4 separate regions of the Homo sapiens genome follow, and all the other regions are linked to region 4. The links come from fine-mapping of genetic effects on gene expression. A gene starts in region 4. Each other region holds a variant in brackets. All regions are shown on one strand. Distances are between the middles of the regions. Region 1 overlaps PYROXD2 (pyridine nucleotide-disulphide oxidoreductase domain 2). Region 2 overlaps LOC105378449 (a long non-coding RNA gene). Region 3 has its middle 22 kb from the start of MIR1287. Region 4 holds the start of PYROXD2 (pyridine nucleotide-disulphide oxidoreductase domain 2).

The links. PIP is the estimated chance that this variant, and not a neighbour inherited with it, causes the effect.
Region 1: its variant is fine-mapped to the expression of PYROXD2 in blood mononuclear cells (TOPMed, PIP above 0.99).
Region 2: its variant is fine-mapped to the expression of PYROXD2 in whole blood (TOPMed, PIP above 0.99).
Region 3: its variant is fine-mapped to the expression of PYROXD2 in blood mononuclear cells (TOPMed, PIP above 0.99).

What each region holds. Positions count from the first base shown.
Region 1 is chr10:98,384,615-98,389,761 of GRCh38, reverse strand. It overlaps PYROXD2 (pyridine nucleotide-disulphide oxidoreductase domain 2), which reads left to right. Exons shown (of 16, transcript NM_032709.3): 13 at 1,254-1,408; 14 at 2,455-2,561; 15 at 4,695-4,815. Among named protein-coding and RNA genes, the nearest start is that of MIR1287, 8.1 kb to the left of the region's middle. The variant C/T (reference allele first, on the strand shown) is at 2,422.
Region 2 is chr10:98,364,376-98,369,522 of GRCh38, reverse strand. It overlaps LOC105378449 (a long non-coding RNA gene), which reads right to left. Exons shown (of 3, transcript XR_001747305.2): 3 at 955-1,328. Among named protein-coding and RNA genes, the nearest start is that of MIR1287, 28 kb to the left of the region's middle. RefSeq lists a silencer at 1,077-1,371 and an enhancer at 905-1,523. The variant G/A (reference allele first, on the strand shown) is at 2,345.
Region 3 is chr10:98,370,726-98,375,872 of GRCh38, reverse strand. No RefSeq gene overlaps it. Among named protein-coding and RNA genes, the nearest start is that of MIR1287, 22 kb to the left of the region's middle. RefSeq lists enhancers at 72-571, 572-1,073. The variant C/T (reference allele first, on the strand shown) is at 2,121.
Region 4 is chr10:98,412,655-98,417,774 of GRCh38, reverse strand. It overlaps PYROXD2 (pyridine nucleotide-disulphide oxidoreductase domain 2), which reads left to right and starts at 2,593. Exons shown (of 16, transcript NM_032709.3): 1 at 2,593-2,766. The coding sequence starts at 2,640. It overlaps HPS1 (HPS1 biogenesis of lysosomal organelles complex 3 subunit 1), which reads left to right. Exons shown (of 20, transcript NM_000195.5): 20 at 49-1,577. The coding sequence ends at 211.

The DNA.
Region 1 (5,147 bases), 28 kb after region 4:
ACTGTGGAGAAAAATAGGCAGGGAAGGGGAGGAAAGGCTTCTCTAATAACGTGGCACTTGAGCGGAGACCGGAAGGAAGTGAGAATACAGATCTTATGGGTATCTGGGGAAAAAACGTCCAGACAGAGGGAAGGTCAGGTGCAAAGGCCCTGGGGCAGGAGTGTGCTGCTGTATAGGAGGCACAGGGACGAGGCCAGAGTGGCTGGAGAGAGAGCACCTGGGAATGAAGGGTCTCGGATGGTGCTGGGTCTTGTCAAGTGCCCTGGCTCTTACTCCAGGAAAGTTTGTGCAGAGCCTGCCTTATGCTTTAAAAAGACCAACCTGGACACTGTATGCAGAAAAAGTTAAGGCATCTGTTGCAATGGGTTACTGTTGCAGAATCCAAGGGAGAGAGGACAGTGGCTTGGACAAGGGTGGGGGCAGGGGAAGTGATGAGAAGTGTTGGAAGACTGGGTATGTTTTGAAGGTGAAGCCAACAGGACTTTCTGTTGGATAGGGAGTGGGATGTGGGTCAAAAAAAGGAGCGACTGTGAAATGATGCCTCCATTTACTGAAAAGAGGAAGAGGCGGTGGGGGTGGAGCAGATTTTAGAGGCTAATCAGGCATTGGGGTTTGAACAGGGGATGTTTGAGATCCCTGGTGGACATCCGAGTTCAGCGAGAACATTGCAGCTGAGGGACGCAGGGAGAAGGGGCATTTCCCGTGGCCTTGAAGGAGACTCATATTTGGAGATCAGAGGGAGAACATGCTCCAGGTAGAAAAGGTGTGGCAGGCAAAGGTGGTGGGGTGGGAAGCAGGTCACAGCTCTGCTGGGGCTCGGGGCAGCCCTAGCAGCTCTGTCTTCCATTGGTCTGCTCTGGAAAAGACAGTCAGGCCACTAAAGCCTGGCTGAAATCTGGCTGCTTGGGCGCCTGCTGTCTTAGGCCTGGCCCCTTTCCACACTCCCACTGTCTGTGTGGACCTTCGAGACATTTGCGTTTGGGAGCTGTGGTTAGAGCACAGCGTGTGATGAAGGCAGGCAAGGACAGGCCATGCATTCGGGGGTCTGGGGTCAGGCGAGCTCCTCACAGGTGCTCTGGACCACGCTAGCAGCCGCTAAGCCCGTGCAGGTGGACAACCACTGTGGCTGTAGAGCGACAATCGCCCAGAATTGGTGTCATCTCAGGGCCTCCACTGTGTCCCAAGTCATCTCGGATGCCCTACCCTCCGCACTGCTGCTCTTTAGACCTGCCGTCTCCTCCCTGCCCGCACAGGCCTGTGATTGAGCTCTGCATCCCTTCCTCGCTGGACCCCACCCTGGCTCCCCCTGGCTGCCATGTAGTCTCCCTCTTCACTCAGTACATGCCCTATACGCTGGCTGGAGGCAAGGCCTGGGACGAGCAGGAGAGAGACGCTTATGCAGACAGAGGTAAAGACAGCTGCACGTTCTGCCTCCAGAGCCACAGCCGGGCATGCGACCCAACTGGGCCTGCTCCTCCTCACTGCCCCATTCAGGATTGACAACTGCAGGTGCCATTCCAAAGGGAGGAAATAGTCAAGGGAACCTCAAGTCAACATAGTTGACTGCAGGGGTCAGGAACTGGGCTAAGAAAGTCAAGAAGACACAGTTCCTGCCCTCCAGTTGCTCACAGTCTAGCAAGGGATGGAGGAGACTAATTAAGAAACCTTTTATTACAGCACAGCTGACTGCACGAACCAAAGGAGACGCATGAGCCAGAGAGACAAGGAAGGCTTTCAAAGGAAGGGATGGTCAAGCTGGGTTTCCAAGGATGACTAGGAGCTGGCCAGGCAGCAAAGGGCATTCCAAGCAAGAGAAACAGCTTGATCAGGCCAGGCGTGGGGGCTCATGCCTGTAATTCCAGCACTTCGGGAGGCCGAGGCAGGCGGATCACCCGAGGTCAGGAGTTCAAGACCAGCCTGACCAACATGGTGAAACCCCGTAGCTACTAAAAACATAAAAAAATTAGCAGGGTGTGGTGGCACATGCCTGTAATCTTAGCTGCTCAGGAGGCTGAGGCAGGAGAATCGTTTGAACCCAGAGGCGGAGGTTGCAGTGAGCTGAGATTGCGCCACTGCACTCCAGCCTGGGTGACAGAGTGAGACTCCGTCTCAAAAAAAAAAAAAAAAAAAAAAAAAACAGCTTGAGAAAAGTGAAGAGGTGAAAAAAGCTGCATATGCAAAAGGAGATCAGCAGCTTCGTGTTTAAGGTTGGGGTAGGGAAGTGGGGAAAACTGGGGACTGGACTGGCCTACCCATGCATCTTTGGGATGAATTAATCATTTGCTTGTGGACTGATTTTTGTTTTTCACCTATTGAGGTATAATTTGCATATGATAAAATAAGCCCATTTCTGTGTGTAATTTAATGACTGTTAGTAAATTTGCCAAGTTGTACACCCATAGTGCCTCCTCTTCTTCCTAA[C/T]ACCATCTCATTTCTCTGTTTTTGGCACCCCAGTGTTTGATTGCATCGAGGTCTATGCCCCTGGCTTCAAGGACTCTGTGGTTGGCAGAGACATCCTCACACCACCAGATTTGGAGAGAATCTTCGGGCTTCCTGGAGGGGTATGTATAAGCCTAGGGGGTCTCTCACCATAGCCTTCCCTCTGCACCCTCACTTCCTGGCTATGACCTCTCTGCTTTATCTTGTCCCTCCATACTCAGCTTTCATCAGGAAGGGAGGACAGTGGCAGGGACCCCGGCTGAGAGAGGGCAGAGAAGCGGTCAAACCGAGGGAATGGGGGATCCCTAGTGGGGGCTCAGAAACACAGGCAGGACAGCCCCCACTGAGAAGGTCACCAGGATTGTGGCCCTCTGCCTTGACAACTATGCTGGCTCTGCCATCTGACTTTCTTGAGAGAGAGCACCCCCTTCTCAAGGCAGCAGCACATCCTCAGACTTGTCAATTTATCAAAAACTAGAGATTGGAGACAGGGAGACCAGATAGGAGGCCAGGTTCAATCGCCTCATTGCAGCTACTGAGCACTTGAAAGATCAGAGACCACCCTAGGCAACGTAGTGAGACCCCATCTCTACAAAAACAAAAACCCCGCCAGGTGTGGTGGTGCGTACCTGTGGTTCCAGCTACCCAGGAAGCTGAAACAGGATGATCGCTTGAGCCCAGGAGTTTGAGACTGCAGTGAGCTGTGATGCGTCATTACACTTCAGCCTGGGCAACAGAATGAGACCCTATCTCTAGAAAGAAAATTTAAAAAAAAAGCAAAAGAAAGATCTGAGGCCAAAGTGAGATGTGCTGCAAGTGTAGAATGCACACAGTATAGAAAAAAATGTAAAATATCTCATCAATAAGTTATATATTGATTACATGTTGAAATTATAATATTTTGGATATATTGGGCTAAATAAAATATATTATTGACATTAGTTTCATCAGCTTGCCCTTCCTTCCTTCCTTCCTTCCTTCCTTCCTTCCTTCCTCCCTCCCTTCCTTGTTTCCTCCCTCCCTCCCTCCCTCTCTTCCTTCTAGAGATAGGTCCTGTTCTATCACCCAGGCTGGAGTGCAGTAGTGCAATCACGGCTCACTGCAGCCTCGACCTCTGGGGCTGAAGCCATCCATCCTCCCACCTCAGCCTCCTGAGTAGCTGGGCCTACAGGCATGCACCACCACACCTGGCTAATTTTTTTTTTTTTTTGTAGAGATGAGTCTCCCTGTGTTGTCTAGGCTGGTCTCAAACTCTGGGGCTCAAGTGATCCTCCCACCTTGGCCTCCCAAAGTGCTGGGATTGCAGGCATGGGCCACCACAACCGGCTCTGCTTTTACTTTTTAAATGTAGCTACTAATAAATCAAAAACTACATATGTAGCTCCCATTACATGTTCACTGAACAGCACTGGTCCAGGTATAGAGGAAAGAAGGCCAGGCAGCGGGAAGGAAGGGAATGGCTGGGTACAGCAGGCATGGGGCGGGCAGACTTGAGAAGCCTTGGTGACAGTGTGCACATAGGAGTCAGGGTGGAGGTGATGTGAAGGGTAGGCACAGAGGCCAGGGGGAGGAAGGTGGTGTCATTCACTTATGCAGGAGGATGGGGAGGAGCAGACTCGAGGGAAGAGGATGGCCTCAGTTTGGGGAAAGGTGAAGAGGGCAGTGGGGGAGCACTCCTGTGAGGATGCCCAACAGACGTCAGGCTTCTTGTCCAGACCTGCCCCCTGAGTCTGACCTTCGCTTGTCCCATGCTGCCTCCCTTCTCAGCCTGGGGCTGGTCTCACCCAAGCCAGGGGGGCAGAACCGTGCTCGGGCTCCGTTGCCCCTTGTCTGCCATTCACAGTGATCCTGCTGGAGCTTGGACACCGGGGTCCGGGCTCAGGTGGATGCCTTGGCCAGAGAAGGGAGTTCTCGCAGAGACGCATGCCAACAGCCACAATAAGTCAGACAATTCTGTTTTTCCAACAGAGGGAGAGGGATGCAGAGTAGAGAGCAAAACCCTCTTTTCCTTCCCGTTCAGTTCGTGTTCCCCACCCTGCTTTCTTCCTCAAAAAGCCTCTGGAAAACTTCACTCCCAGCCCCAGGGCATGTGCCCATTCCGTCTCATCTCCTTCCCTTTCTGCATTTTAAAACCCAAGAAAATATCCTGGAAGGAGAAGAACATTTGCTGAAGAACAGGGGAGGGGAAGAAACCCAGCCAGAGCAGGAAAGGCTGTAACTCTCCTGTGCTGATGACTGTGGCCCTGCCTCTGCAGAACATATTCCACTGCGCCATGTCCCTGGACCAGCTCTACTTCGCCCGCCCCGTGCCCCTGCATTCTGGCTACCGCTGCCCTCTCCAGGGCCTGTATCTCTGTGGAAGTGGGGCTCATCCTGGTGAGTGACCTGGAGTCCCACTACCCTGTGGGGACTGGGAGGGCTCACTGGAGGCCAGAGACTTGGAGAAGGAGGAAGTTAAGCAATGAAGGTGGCAGAGAGGGAGGGGAGCAGGGAACTCCCAACATAAGCTGCCCTGTGTTCAGAATTATCCATGCACAGGTGAGCACACAGCCGCTGCCTCCACCAGGCTGACCACAGCCCACAGTTGAGCTCACACCTCCCCTTCAGGAGGCCTGGGGATGCATCCTGGTGGAGGCATCTCACCACATTCCAATGTGGGGTTGTGAGAGACCCATGTCCCTAAATTCCCCATCCGTATATATATTTAG
Region 2 (5,147 bases), 48 kb after region 4:
GTGTTAAATATCTTCTTTTAACTCTGATATTCTGTGAATGTTTTTCCAAATTATTCCATTTTTACCTTTTTAATTTAAAATCTGAGTTACGTATGATTGCAAACAGAACCTACGAAGTCTCTGCAATTACTAACACAAATCCTGACAGAGCAATCCTGGCATGAAAAACTGAACATCTCTGCAGTGACTGATGTGGAGCAGCAGCAGCTGGAAGTTGGGATATGAGACCAGCAACGAATGCACAGACAATACCTCCAAACCGGGCAGAAACAGAGACACTTCCTTCACCACACTTGGCTGGGATTTTCACCAATCCGTGGTGAGGAGTGATTGGAAATTAATCTCAGAATCCCACTGTGCGTTTGTAGTTCACAACATATAATTATGCCTAAGTTTACTTTATAGTAAACCATATATAATTCTCATTCCACAGTGCAGATTCTGCCTCAGACAATCCTTTTATTGTTTTTAGAAGCCCTGTGGTAAAAGCCTTACTGGATGATATCATTTTAATTATAAATCTCTACTGGAAGGTCCCCCAAGCGACTGCAGTAGACAAAATTCCAATTCCCAAAGTCAAGGGCCAGGTAATTTAAACCCTGTCCAAAATGCTGCTTTAATAATACTTAGTTTTGACTGGGGAACTACATGTTATAGCAGCATCGGAGAGCTTATACATACAGGCCCTGATACACACACATATCTGTGCTAGGTGCTGGGGATACAGCAAAAAATAAAACAATGTTCATAGCCTCAAAAATCCTCCAGGTAGTAAATAAACCATGAAGATATGAGTCACACTAGGACCTTTTTTTTCTTTCTTTCTTTTACTCACTACTATACCAAAGAGGAGAGTATGAGGATAAGAAGAGAAGGTCTGGAACAATCACTAAAGGACAAGGATGAGGGAGATGATGAGAAATTAGTAAAAGGACTGATGTAAGACCACACTCATATTGTTATGGACCAAGTCCATGGAATCTGTATTAAACACTTAGAATAAAGAGACAAGAGGACTGGCCCTTCTGTTTCACGCTCCAGGAGCGTAAGTGGTGCAAATAGTGAGATTCCAGCAGAGGATTTGGATGGGGTTGCACATTAGGATGTTAGGCGGCAAGTCCCCTGTAGAGCGTGCAGATGGCTTGAAGTGGTGCATGTGAATGAGGAGAGGAATGCGCATCCTCCTGGACTGGGGGAGATGGAGCTATTAGGGAGCGATGTCTGAAAGGCTCATCTTGGAGCACAGCTGCAGGAAGCAGAGCCAACGCGATACAGCAGGCGCTCAAATGGGGCCGTTTCATCAGGTTCCATCTCTGTGCAGTGCCAGCCTGTGGAAGGAAAAAAAGGGAAACTTGGAGACAACCCAGCTTTGTGAAGGCTCAGCCTCAAGAAGCCTCATTGCCAGGAAAGGCTTAGCAGTTGGGTTCTCAGTAAAGAAGACAGAGCTTAGATGAGGCTAATCAGGGCTTTTCAAATTACCGGTTGAATGTATAACTCTGCCCTTGGGCCATTTGGCCTTGGAATGGGTGAAAGGATGTGGTGGAGTTTCATCTATTCACAGTGCTTGAAGTAGAGAGCAAGCTGGAAGCACAGAGGACCCCATTGCCCGGACTTTCACCCTCAACTCCTCCAACCCCCGCTCTTGTTACGGCAGCGTGCAGCCGCCTTCGGCCTCCTGCCACACTCCCAGAGCAGCCTGGCCTCGCTTGGTAATAGTGAAAAGGACCACAATGCCTCTCTGTATCTTGTATGGCTCTCACCGTTTACAAGCTGATGACAATTTTTATTTCATTTGATGGAACAACATACAGATGGAGGCAGAGTACGCGTTATCCCCCTACTGTGCAGCAGAACAGACTGAGGCTCAGAGAGGAGGTGGGCATTTTCTCTCTTACAGCTGGTAATGGTGTTAGAATTCCAACTCAAGAAGTTTCACTCTAAAGACCACTGCCCTAGGAGGAGTCTTTATAAAACAGTGTGTCCAGAGTGTTGATTGTAAGCTGCTCATTGTTCTGCAAACTTACTGCACGGAGTTTTTGAATGAGGACTAATTCCTGAGAGGAGAAATGCTTCCTCCCAGAAGCCAGGTTTGGAAGAGGTGGGGGCCCAGCCCGTCTCTGTCAGATGGAACTGGTGGTGACAATGGTGGCCATTTCAATGTCATGAGAAAGACTCAACCTGCGGGGCTCAGCCCTAATGCAGTTTGGGGCAGATAGAATCAGCCCCTGATACCTGCAGGCAGCACCTAAAAAGTTCCTGCGTGGTTGTCATCTGTGGTTTGGGTGCTCTGTGTCCGTGTCCCCTTTGTTTGATAACAGCATTGGGAGTTGGAGCTCTCTCCTCC[G/A]TCATGTGACATGTTGGTGTTCTTAGCTCCCTTGACTTAAGGGTAGGCAAGTGACCCCAATACAACAAATCAGACTGTTTCCTGGGATTCTCTCCTGCACAGAGAGTGGGGGAAATGTTTGGAGCATATTTATTTCAGGGGCAGAATCTCAAGTAAGCTGTCAATTAATTTCTCCTGCCCAGACCCCAGAACACTGTGGTTCTTGACCCTGCTCTCCTACAGTCTACTGGATTCTGAAAGCCACCTGGCGCCCCTCCAATCAAACCTTTTCCCATCTAAGATAGCTAGAATCAGTTTCTGTTGCTTGCAACCAGAGAACAATTGGTGGTCTCCACTTCCCTTCTATTTCCCTTCATTTTCTCTCTCCTCTAGTCCCCTCTCAGGGGGAGCAGAAGATTAGAAAGGAAAAAGTCCTGAAATCGAAGCCAAAAATCTGAATTTGAATCTAGTCCCTGCCACCTCACAGCTGAGTGATCTCAGACAAACTAACCTTTCTGAAAACTCACGAAACATGTGAGTGCTGATGCGAACGTCACCTGTGTGTTGTGAGGGCTACGTGAGGTAATATATACAGGCCCCAGGGTAGCACCCAGCACATATTCGCACCTTCCTTCCTTCCTACTTTTCAGCTCTGCTCCCCGCCCTCCCCGTCCTGGTCATTTCCATCTCTCCACCTCTCTCTCCTTTCCTCTTTCATCTCCCTCTCTTGTAGCACCTCCATCTCCTGTCTCAGCAAGTAACCAGCAAGCTGATGACATTCGGGGCCAGGCCTCAGCTTAACAGCAAGTTCACAGTGAGCTACACACACACAGGACACGTGGAATGGTGCTTTGGTCAACAGGTCAGGAGACGTCAGGTCAATGAGAAACAGCTTCGGAGAAAAGTAAGAATAGGAAGGAATTCATAAAGCTGAGGGTGAAGCTGTTTGCCCTGGGGGAAGAAGACAGAATGAAAGCAGGATCTATACTCCTTCCCTGACCTATAAAGGGAGCATTGTCTTAGGTACTTTGGGAGAAAAAGAGGATAGGCCCAGAAATATGCCCTATGAAGAAGGGTAAAAAAGCTGGCACCCTGGGCACCAAGCGAGACAACTACCCCTTTTCATTTGGGGATAAAGAGGGCAGTGAGTCTGTGGCCAGGCGGGTGGCGGGTGGGTTCAGGTGAAGTGGGAAGTTCCGGCTTCGTCAGGCTGGCTCCGGGTCAGGCGGTGTGCGGCTGAGCAGGTCTTTCCTGCTGTGCTTCTATTTCAGGGTGTGTGTAAGATGAGGGGTCACCGAGGCTGTGTGCAGGCCTCTGCGCCTTACCCAGCGGGGTATGTGGGCTCCTGGCTGTGGCCAGGCCTCAGGAGGTCAGCCGGCCACTGAGACACCAGGGCTGTCTGGCACTGGAGGCCTGGGCTGCGCAGATCCCATCCTGCTGTTTTGGCTGCTGTGAGCAGCTCCTGCTCTTCTCTCCCACCTGCTTTCCTCTGAGTCCCTGTCCACTGAACTTGAAAACTGCAATTTTTTTTTGGTCTTCAGTGACAGTTAGCAATTGACTTGGCTCCACACAGCCACCAACAACCCAGGAGGCAGGATCCTTCTATGCAGAAAGACGGACGGAAGTTCTGACGGGGGGCCTGACTTGCACTTCCTTTGTTCTGAGCCAGAATTCAGCTCAGATGACGCCTCCATCAGGGGACCTTGTGAAATTCAGATGCACCTGCCCAAGTGAGCACCACCGTTTGGGCCACGTCAGTGGGCATTCTGAGGCTTTGTATCAGATGAGAGCTGTCTGAACGGGGCCTTTCATGTGGCCCATCTAAAGCTGTGTCTCTACGTAAGCACTTTCAAAATTGTTAAAAAACAAAAAAAGAAACAAAACAAACAAACAAACAAAACCTCAACTGTGTGTGAAAGCATGGAAAGGGTTTGGGTGGCCTGTGAGCCCTCAGAGGGCAAAGCCTGACATTGGAAACGGAAAAAGGAAAAGGTTTTTTTCACACGCCCCCACCGCTGAGGCCATCAGCATCTGGGACTCTGGTCCCATGCATCACATCGCTTCCCCTTCTCCCTCCTTTTTCTCTTCATCCCCAGTGGTGAGGAATATAGAACTGGCGTACCAGAGGATATCATCGCTGGTGATACATGTTGGCCTGGAGAGAGACCATGCCCCCTTAAGTAAGGAGCAGGATCCACTTCGTAGCTTCATTCACAGGCTTCTGTTTGATCTCCTGTAATTCTCACTGTGACTCACTTATGTCATACTCAGAGTCACTCTCAGAGGGGCAGGCTCCGCCCCGCTCCCCAACTCAGCAGGTACGAATCCCCACTCCAGCACCTGCTAACCACATGGGCTAGTGACCCACGTCTCTGAGTGATGCTTCTTCATCAAGGGACAGGGATGCCAGCACTTCAGAGAATTGTTGTGAAGCTTAAATAAGATGAAAAGTAAAGCATTTGGCACATAGCAGGTGTTTAATAAATATCAGTTCCCTTTCCATGGTTGACTGATGATAGTAAAGGCCACAGTTTGCTCCCTGCCCCCACACCCTTTGGTGGGGCCTCCCACACTGACTGTGGGCTTGGCCTCCCACACTGATGCTTTGGCCAGTGGGACAGTAGTGAAAGGGAAAATCAGGAACACGTGAGAAGTGGAGAGCCCAGCGGAGCACAGTAAATTATTTTAGGATAAGAGCTGTAGCTTTTGGGAGTGTATCAGAGGCTTCTCTCTATGTGGCACCACTGCTTGGTCCTGGGGCAATGGATCCTTGGCTTTCCAATCACTAGAGACCCCTCCAGGCCTGGCTGACCATGATCTCAGC
Region 3 (5,147 bases), 42 kb after region 4:
CTAGTGGAATTTGGAGAGACAAGCTGCCTGTTAATTGGTAGGGTCAGGAAGTATTTCTCACAGCAGAGGGGACTGAGCTAGAGTGGGGTCAAGGATGCACTAGACATGATGAGTGAAAAGAATAAGGTGGGCATTCAGGGTCTTCTGGGCACCATGTGACAACGGTGGGATGGAGGGATGGGCAGAGAGTTCAGAGCCACAGTCGGACGGGATGAGGATTGTGAAGAGCAAAGGCGAGAATAAGGCCGGATAAGAGGGTCAAGCTGCAGATGCCATGCCGGGCAGAAGGTGGCCTTCATTCTACAGCCAACATGGAGTTTGCTGGAGGAGGTATGGGGATTTTACACACATGGGAGGACGTCCAGTCTGTTAGCCTGTTAAAGTGGCCACATTTGCAGTGTTGGCAGAGGCCAGGGGACAAACTCTTGGGCTTCCTCCTCCCCACCTCCCCTCGCCCTCTCCCAAGGACTCAAATGAGCAGTTGAGATATGGACATGAGTTGGGAGTGGGAGCTTCTCACTTGGAGGCTAGAGCCAGATCTTCAGACTACTACACCCCTCTGTCTGCCAAGCCCAGGTGCTCAGTGGAGGGCCATGAACAGAGGCCAGCGTGGCTCCTTCTCATCTCCATAATACAGCCATGTTCTCTGCAGCCTCAATGCAAACAGCTCCTCATTCACCTCTGCCACAGACAGAAGACGGATCCTGGCTGTGGAACCTGGATCTGGGAAGCTTTAGTGGCAGCACCTGTTTTTGGCTGGAGGTGTTTGTAACACCTTGTAGGTATTGTCCCCTGGGGCAGCATGGACCCCTCTACCTGCTTTGAGACTGTGGATGACCTGCATCTCATCAAGGACCGAGGCAGATGGGGACCTGGGCCTGGATTTCTACTACAGAAGCCAGAGACTCATCTGCACGCTGCAGAAACTGGAGCAGCCCATATTTGGAGTTAGGAAGAAGTTTAATAATAGTACACAAACTTCCTTGGAAAGGGCTAGCCTAAAGGGGAACTGGTTATTAGGAGAAAAAAAAAACCACCGCTGTTTTTACAGTAACCCTCCTCAGTCTATAATGAGCAAACCTCTCTTCTGTATAGAGCAGCCTCCTAATGTGAGTCACTCCAAGACTTGGCTTCCAACCGCTGCCCCTTAGCCCAGGAAGCAGGAGCACAATGGAGCAGCCAGGTGTCAATTACAGGAGACGGTCAGGGCAGGAAGCAAGGTGAGTTATAATAGGAGAGCAAATTAATTTCACATAAGTAGGATTAGTAGTTAAATAAATAGAAGTCCCACCACTAACCCTGTCTGGAATGCTGAGTGTCTGTCCCCCACCAGAGGACAGAAAAAGCTCACAGCTGAGCAGGAATCAGGTCACCACAGGGTTACCTACCCACTGTTAAGGACGACCCCCTGGAAATGTAAAGCAAGGACATGGTTTAGAAAAGACACTCTGAGCCGGGAAAAAGAGATGGTATGTAGGGAAAGATGCCTCCCACTGATGGCTTAGTCATCTATGACAGGGCCACGATGCAGTGTGAAGCAGCTGTACCTAAGAACAGTCTGAGCAGTGGAGGAGGGGTCACCCAGGATTTGGGGTAAATTGCGGGTGGTGAATTCTAAGGATGACTCCATCAGGAGCTTCCATTCCAGGCTGAGTTTGTGTTGGCTTTATTTTTAAATTGTCAACCTCTTGTTTGTTCGTTTGGGCTTTTTAAAGCTTCTGTCCCTTTCCCAGTTTTCAAGTGACCTTTGTTCAGGTGAGTGGAGTCCTGGGTTCCTTGGGACTTCAGGGGCTGAGGGAGCATGGAGGGGAGACCAGGGCTCGAGGTGAGCCAGGTCAGGGCAGCCGGGTTCCAGATCTACAAAGTAGAGTCAGTCATACATCACAGCATTGCTGTGAGGACTAAGGTAAATTAAGTCCAAAGCAAAAAGCCCCTAATGAGAGTTCTGACAGCTGGAGATAAGCTTGAAAATAAGCAGCAGCTTTCTGTCCTCCTCTCCTGCCTTCCTGTCATGCAATGGAGCCAGAGAAGAGAATTCATAGCGGACACTATGCAAAGGAGGCTATACACAAAATCTTCCTAGGGCGGGAGGAACTGCCTGCCGGTTAGGGAATTCTCAG[C/T]AAGGACCTCCGGGGAAGCTTCTGAGCTGCTTCTGACTCTGCATTGGCTTAGGATTTTGAGCACGGTCAGGGTGGATCTGCAGCCTCAAGCTGTAAGAGGTAGGGCAGTCTAGGAGTCCTTAACTCAGGGGTTCCTAAACTTCTTTGACTATATCCACTTGAGTGGGGCCAAAGGACACAACGTCTCACCAGTTCCCCCTCTCTCCTGAGTTTGGTAATTATAGGTGTGGGGCTTATGGGAAGGAGAAGAGGATCGCAGAGGAACCAAACAGACATATTGCACTAAACCTGCTGAGCAGGCAGTATACACGGTTCACTTCCTATTTATGTTAAAGAAAAATCTGCCATTGTACACTTGATTTTATATTATAAATGAACGCCCCATGATCTCAAAATAACCCTACTAATTTTATTATGCTAACCTTGATTGCAAGACGAAAGTGATGAAAAAAAAATAGCACAAATTCACCGGCAAGGAAGCCACCAATGAAGTGTCCTTCTATAATAGGGTGACCGACCGTGGGAGTTTGCTCAGGATTCTCCCAGCTTTAGCATTGAAAATTCTACATTCCGGCAAACCTCTCAGTCCTGGGCAAACCACCATACAAGCAAAATATAAAGGGATCATGTATACACCTCCCTTAGCAGTAGGGGTACATGAGTGATGAATTATTCAACTGCAATTCATTTACATATAATGTCTAGAAATTGCACAATTTTATAATAAAAGCCAAAAATTATCAAAGTAAATACTTATTACTACCCATTCTAGGACAACCCCAAACTCTCGCCAGACTCAATGGATAATGAGGGCACAAAACCAATAGTAACTTATAAATATAAAGTATGAATAAAAGCGGTTGAAAACCATGATAACTCAAAATAACTGCTGAAGAGCTAACGAAACAGCGTTTTTCCAAATCTTGGGGAAATTCCAACTATGTAAAGTATAGTGTAGAATAACAAATTGGAGTCCTCAGTAAATCCCAGGAACACTAATTTTAGTTTATGAATACCAAATTTTTGTGGGTTAAAAGCTTTACTTGTACATAAGAAGTAAAGTCTGGGGGCCACCTCTGTGACCCACCTGGAGGAACCACAGGAAAGATTTGCGTGCTTGGGTCACTTCATAGTCATCAGAATGATACTCAGGTCCCACTTTGAGAGTCACTGCATTAGCTCAATTAATAAATGAGAAAACAGAGGCCCCGAGAAGTCAAGTGACTTTTCCAAAGCTACAGGTGCCATGGGTCCTCCAAGGAAGGTTCTCTGAGGGCTGGAGAGGTGTGTTAGGGGGCAGAGGTAGGATTTTAAAATAGTTTGTCTGTCTTAGTCACTCCCTCCACATACATCTGACATAGTGAAAGAGCACTGGTCCTCTTGAACCCTCATAGGGCTTGTTAGGGTCTAATTGTGTCCCCCAAAAAGACATGTTGAAGTTTTGACCCTCAGTACCAATCAACGTGACCTTGTTGGGAAACAGGGTCTTTGCACATGGAGTCAAGATGAAGTCCTAAGGATGAGCCCTAATCCTATATGATCATGTCCTTATAAAATGAGGGAAGTTGGGACACACACACACACACACACACACACACACACACACACAGTGCCTTATGAAGACACAGACACAGGGAGAAGACGGCTGTGTGAAGTGGAGGTGGAGATGGGCGGGATGCTGCCACAAGCCAAGGGTGTCTGGGGTGACCATGGAAGAGGCAAGAAAAGATCCCCCCGCCACCCCCCAGGAGGTTTCAGAGGAAGTGTGGCTCTCCTAACACCTCGAGTGTGGTCCTCTGGCCTCCAGAACTGTGGGATAATAAATTTAAACCACCCAATTTGTGGTTCTTTGTCATAATAGCCCAGAAGACAAATACAGAGACTCGCAGTTGCTCCCCGTGCCTGGCCTGGGTACTCTCCTTCTCACACTCTCTCTGCAGCTGGTTGGGAGCAAAAGCCTCAGGGAAAAGTACAGATCCTCTGGTTTCTCTTTGCCATGTCTCCTCCATGCCTGCCTTAGTAGCATCAGAGAGTGTGCCCCTGGGAGGGGACGCAACTCGGGCATGGAGCGGGTGGCCCAGTATCAGAGACCGTGTCATGCAACAGGAGGGCAGGGGAGCCCGGCTGGCACCCCTTGTCCCTGAGGGTGCTGGGAGGATGAATGCCTCTTCCCGGTCAAGTGCTTCCAGCAGAGACACTTGACATTTTCCTGTCCACACACCATTTGGCAAGGACGAGAGCTCCGATGGGCCATCCTGACCTTTGCTGTATTTTTCTAGGATAAAAGCAAAGAGCTCATCAGATTACAGGGGAAGGGGCCTGCTTCTGCAGAAACTGAGCACGGTATACCTTCCCTTGTTTTACCTTTAACATCTTATAGAGGCAACATAAAGACTTGGTTGAGCTGCAGCTCTGTGATTTGCCTGCCTGTGAACTTCCACCCAGAGGCGAGCACAAGCCCCCAGGGACTGGGATGGCACCAGCCAGGGCAAGGTCGATCTTTATAAATACTCACCAGATGCAGAGTATGATCCCAGTTTTATAAAATAAATGCACTTATGTGTCTATCTGCATATTGAATTGTCTGGAAAGAAAGCGCCAAATGTTATCTATCCAGGGGAGAATTATAAATGTTATTTTACTTCTGTTTATCTCTTTTCTAATATTGCTGCTATAAACAGGAAGGAATGATGTAATAAAAACGGCCAAAAGACAAAAATTATCCATGGTTACGGCTTCTGAGTGCAAATTTTGTTCATATTTCTGAGTGCCTGATAGATAAACAAAAACACCAAAAGAGAGAGACATAATGATATAGCTACACATAATACACAATATTAACCCTTTCTTACTCCAGAAAGGATAAAGATGCTTTTTCCAGTGAAACACTTTTTTCCTCTAGTCTGATGATCCTGTGTTTACAATACTGTGATTTCACTTAACATGCTATCAAGCATTTCCCCATGGTGTTCTAAACCTTTCCATTCATCATTATTATATGTTACTTACTTAAAGTCCTTATAATTG
Region 4 (5,120 bases):
GAGTGCCACAGCCTCACTCCTGAATCCCATCCTCCCCTTCCTCCCCAGGAAGCTCCTGCGCTACTACAGCAAGAACCGCCCAACCGAGGCTGTCAGGTGCTACGAGCTGCTGGCCCTGCACCTGTCTGTCATCCCCACTGACCTGCTGGTGCAGCAGGCCGGCCAGCTGGCCCGGCGCCTCTGGGAGGCCTCCCGTATCCCCCTGCTCTAGGCCAAGGTGGCCGCAGTCTGCCTTTGCATCCTGTCCTCCAGCCACCCTTGCTTGCCACTGTTCCCCATGACGAGAGCCTCCTGTCTGCAGTGGCCATCCTGAGGATAGGGCAGAGTGCCCAGGGTGGCCCCAGGGCTTCTAAAACCCCACCTAGACCACCCTCCATGTCAGGTACTGAGCAAGGCCCCAGATCCTTCTCTCTGGAGGAAGAGGGAAGCCCAGGGGTCCTGTTTGTAAAACAACGGTGGCAACAGCTCCTCTTCCAGAGCTGCCTCTGCCTTTATCCTGGGAGATGGGGAGGAAGCCCCATCTCTGCTGTTCCCTGCGTGGAGGAAGCCCACCCAGCAAGCTCTCTCCTACCCCAGGTAAAAGGTGCTCCTTTGCCTGGGTTTGAATTCCAGCGCTGCCACTTCCTCTCTGCACCTCCTGGCAAGTTTCTTCTATTCCCCACGTTTAAAGCGATGGCACCTCCGTCCCAGGGTGGTGTGAGGATTACCCAGTGTGGTAGGTGCTCAATAAATGTTGGTCATTGTTATCACTGAAGCCCAACATGCTAGTGCTTCTAGACCCTTCTGTCAGTGCTGATAAGCCCTTGCTAAGTCCCAGCCCCTTCATGCTTGGCTGGCGTCTGCCCTAGGGCTGGGGTTCTCAAGCCCCTGGCCCTGGCCCAGAGATTTGGATTCCCTTGGCGGCCGTGGAGCCCAGCCTTTGATGTCTTTCAAAGCTTCTGTGGTGCGCCCTGGATTGAGAACCACCACCCGAGGGGTACAGCCCCTCTCTTCCAACCGAGAAGTTCCTGTCCCAGAATGGACCCAGGGACAAGAGACCCTGAGAGCCCTGGGACTGGGAGTGTCTGCTCCTCTGAGGCCAGGAGGCCGGTGCTGGGCCAGAGAGGACGGCGTGGCGAAAGTCAGCGTCCACTGCAGCACAGGATCAGATGGCCGTGTGCTGTGCATGCAGGAGCCTCGCCTTCTGTGTCTTTAGTCTTGAGCCAAAATTTGCTCAAAGACTGATCTCTTCCTTGCAGGGAACAGCTTTGGGGCTGGGGGAACTAGAACCCACATGTTGGTCTAAACCCTGAGAAGGTGGCAGTGAGGAAGTATCCCCTCAGGTGACTGGATCTGTGTTCCTCCTTAACATCATCTGATGGAATGGCAATGAAAAGCGTGGATTGTGGAAAATACAGAAAAACATAAAGGAAAAAACTCCAATCCCCTGAGCCCACCACTGTTCAGGACCCCTGCTTTTGTCACCTACTATTTCCCTTTAGTTTTTAGCAGCGGCTGGATGTGATATGTCTAGTTTAACCAGTCCCCTTGATCTTTCTATATAATAAATAACACAGGAGTGAACATCCTGAATCAGATCTTAGCAGAGATGCTCACATGCGGGGTAACTGTCCATGGTGTGTGGAGGGGTCCTCGGAACCCCCTCTTAGGATCATCTCCACATACTCTCCCAGTTCTGAGATTCGTTACCAATAGCAGGTTTCCGTCACACTGCGATATCAGAGCAGTGCAGGAACTCTCCGCTCCAAGGGGTTTTTTCCTCCTAGGGGAACACTCTGCTAAGTAATGGGCAGAGAACAAAGGGGCTCCTAATTCAAGGCAGGCCTAAGGGAGGGTCAGAAAGAACTTTAGCTGGAGGTATTTACAGATGTGACCTCGAATCCTTGGGGATTCTTGGAAAATGGGCAAGGTGCCAAAAGAGGAGAACTGGCCAGGCCTTCAAAACTAAAACACCAGAGAATTACAGACAGCGAACTTGCCCCTAAGCCCTCGTTGTGGGTTTGTGTTTGAGCATTTAGGAGAGGACTCCAGTGCTCCTCAGCGACAGACACAGCTGCCTCTGCGGTGTCTGAAGGCCCTGGTCGTGGTGACGCTAGATGGCCGCCCTGGGCGCCTCCTGTGGGCGTAGAGGCATCACCACTCTGCACTGGCAGACTCAGCATGGAGTTGGAGCAGAGTCTGACACGAGCACTTGCCATCCCAGGCGTTTCAGTTCTGACTGAGAAGGTAGATGCACAGGGGAGGAGAGGGCCCTTTCGAGCTCCACTCTGCCTCCACCACTCATTCCCTAACCCCGCAGCCTCAGCGCCCTCATCTGTAAAATGGGGAGTTTTGCCTACAGGGTTCAGCACAATGCCAGCCTGACATAGGAACCCCAGTGGATTGTCAGTTTTGCCATTATCCCCTGCATCCTGGAGGTGACACCGCCTGGTTAATAGGCAACACTCCCGACGGCCCAGCACAGCCCCAGGGCAGCAGGAGGCTGGCCTGTGGCCAAGAATGCATGGTGGAGGGGGCCTGGAGGGGGACTGCAGCTCCTCCTCTTCCTGCTTCCTCCCTGCTCCACCCCGTGCCTAGGGCAGCACAAAAGCCAATCGCTAGCAAACTCCCTGCCTAGCAAGGCCCAGCCTGGGGCAGAAATGGCTGCAAGTGGCCGAGGTCTCTGCAAGGCTGTGGCCGCCTCTCCCTTCCCGGCGTGGAGACGAGATAACACGGAAGCCAGGGGAGGTCTGAAGCCTGAGTATGATGCGGTGGTGATAGGAGCAGGTAAAGTGGTAAAGCAGGCCGGGCCAGAGCTGAGGGGCGGGAAGACAGCCCTGCTCAGAGCTTGGTGGGGAGGGGGAGGGGGAGCCAAGCCCCACTGCTCTCTCCTCTGGCATAACCCAGCCAGAAGTTTATACGCTAGCAGGGGCTGCAATGGAAAGCCCTTCCATCTGGCAGGCAGGCACCTGGGATTCCGGTGCTGGCTCTGCTGTGTGGCCTGGGGCAAATGCTTGCCTTCTCTGGGCTTGGATCTTCCCATGGAGAATGACAGGAAGACTAGGTGAGCTCAGGGGTTTCCCTATATCTCTTGCAAAGTGACCTAGTTTCCACCACATTCTCAGCCTATGGTTTGTAAGGGTTGGAAAGAGCCCTGGGCCAACAGACAAGTGAAATCCAGCACCCCGCCCCCTCAGTGCCCTGAGTTCTGGTCACCACTACCTTACCACTGAGGCCACCCCTCGTCACAAGAAACTGCAGTCATTTCATAAAGGCCAGTTAGGATAAAACAGAACTGAGTCCCAGAGTTCCTACTGCGTGTCTGCAGAGGGAGATGGACCCCATTGCCTTGCAGCTCTGGGACATTTGGGGATCTGCAGTGATCTGCCACACTTTGCCAACCCCTGGGCTCAGAGTATCACAGTCTACTGGGTGCTAGGGGAAGAGGCAGGCCCAGGACCAGGTGGTCTTTCCTTAGTGCCTTCCTTTCACACTTGCAGAGGGCCCCAAATGCATGATTGCCAACTGGGTCTATACAGAGATAATGACGGGACCGAAAGCAGACGGCACTCAACATGCAGCTTTGAGGGCATGCCTTCATTTTCATATGTACTAGAGCAGTTGCGAGCTGGTAGATACTCAACACTCACCTCTCCAGGGAAAAATGTGTGATGTATGTGTGTGTGTACATGTATATATATGTATATATACACACATATATGTGTATATATATGTATATGTGTTACGTACATATATATACACATATACACATGCTTATTTTAAATATTGAAATAAAAGATACACTGCACACAATTTTACAAATAAAGATACAATACTCTCAATTTAAATGCAGTCTACCCGAGTGATTCTTACCAAAGGCTTTCTTTGATTTTTGCCAAACTCAGTAGCCAACCTATAGTTGCAAATGACAAATGAGGGTAGCTCCAAAGAGAACGGTGCTCCATATTTTCTGTAAAGAGTAGGATGATCGTGAAACAAATGAAACAACAAAGATTTATGTCCCAACCTTACTCCTTTATTTTTTAAAATTTATTTTTATTTTATTTATTTATTCATTTATTGAGATGGAGTCTTGCTCTGTTGCCCAGGCTGGAGTGCAGCGGCGCAATCTCGGCTCACTGCAACCTCCGCCTCCTGGGTTCAAGCGATTCTCTTGCCTCAGCCTCCCGAGTAGCTGGGACTACAGGCGCCCACCACCACGCCCGGCTAATTTTTGTATTTTTAGTAGAGACGGGGTTTCACCATGTTGGCGAGGCTGATCTCAAACTCCTGGCCTTGTGATCCACCTGCCTCAGCCTCCCAAAGGGCTGGGATTACAGGTGTGAGCCACTGCGCCCGGCCTCCTTCTTTAAATGACAGGAATGATGTTACTCAAATAAGATAATATTGTTCTAATACTAGAATATTTCCTTCAATTTTTGTGCTATTTATTCATGCTATAACAGCTAACACTGTTAGGTTTAATCTGCATTATTAGCATTTTCCCATCACTTTCTTAAGCCTGACCACAAAAAATAAATTCAGCCCTTCTGTGTAATATTTGCTGATGACAGTGGTGTAAATACTCCCACCATAGCCTTTTCTGTTACCAAGATGAGGTTGCTCAATGTGATTTAGGAGAGATACCCAGTAGCACATCATTGTATAGTGTGTCCACCATGCAGATATGTACATAGAGGCCAGTGACTGCCAGGGCATGGGCAACAGTCAAATGTAGTAAAACAAATAGGAGGTAGTGTGTTTTGAGTATTTATTACCTTTGTTTTTAATTTATTTAATTGTAAGCTTATATAATTTAGTTTATATCAATGGCTGTTTGACAGCCGGCTCACAAACTCCCCGGGCTGGTGGGAGCCATCTCCAGCACCTCACTTAGCCTCAGAGAAGCCCCCTGCCTCCTTCCGTGCTCAGCCACAGCTCACCCTGCTGTCTCCTAATGGGGAAGGTTGACTTTAGGTCACCAGCTGCCTTGGTGACTTGCCTACAAGTGCGAGTGAGTCTCAGTGTGTGAGCTTTTCCTTGACATGATTTCTTTAGTTGCTAAACATACCATAAAGCCTGGTTTAAAGGCATCTTGGGCCTCAGTGAGGAACAGAACGGCATCTTCTGAGACAAGGGTT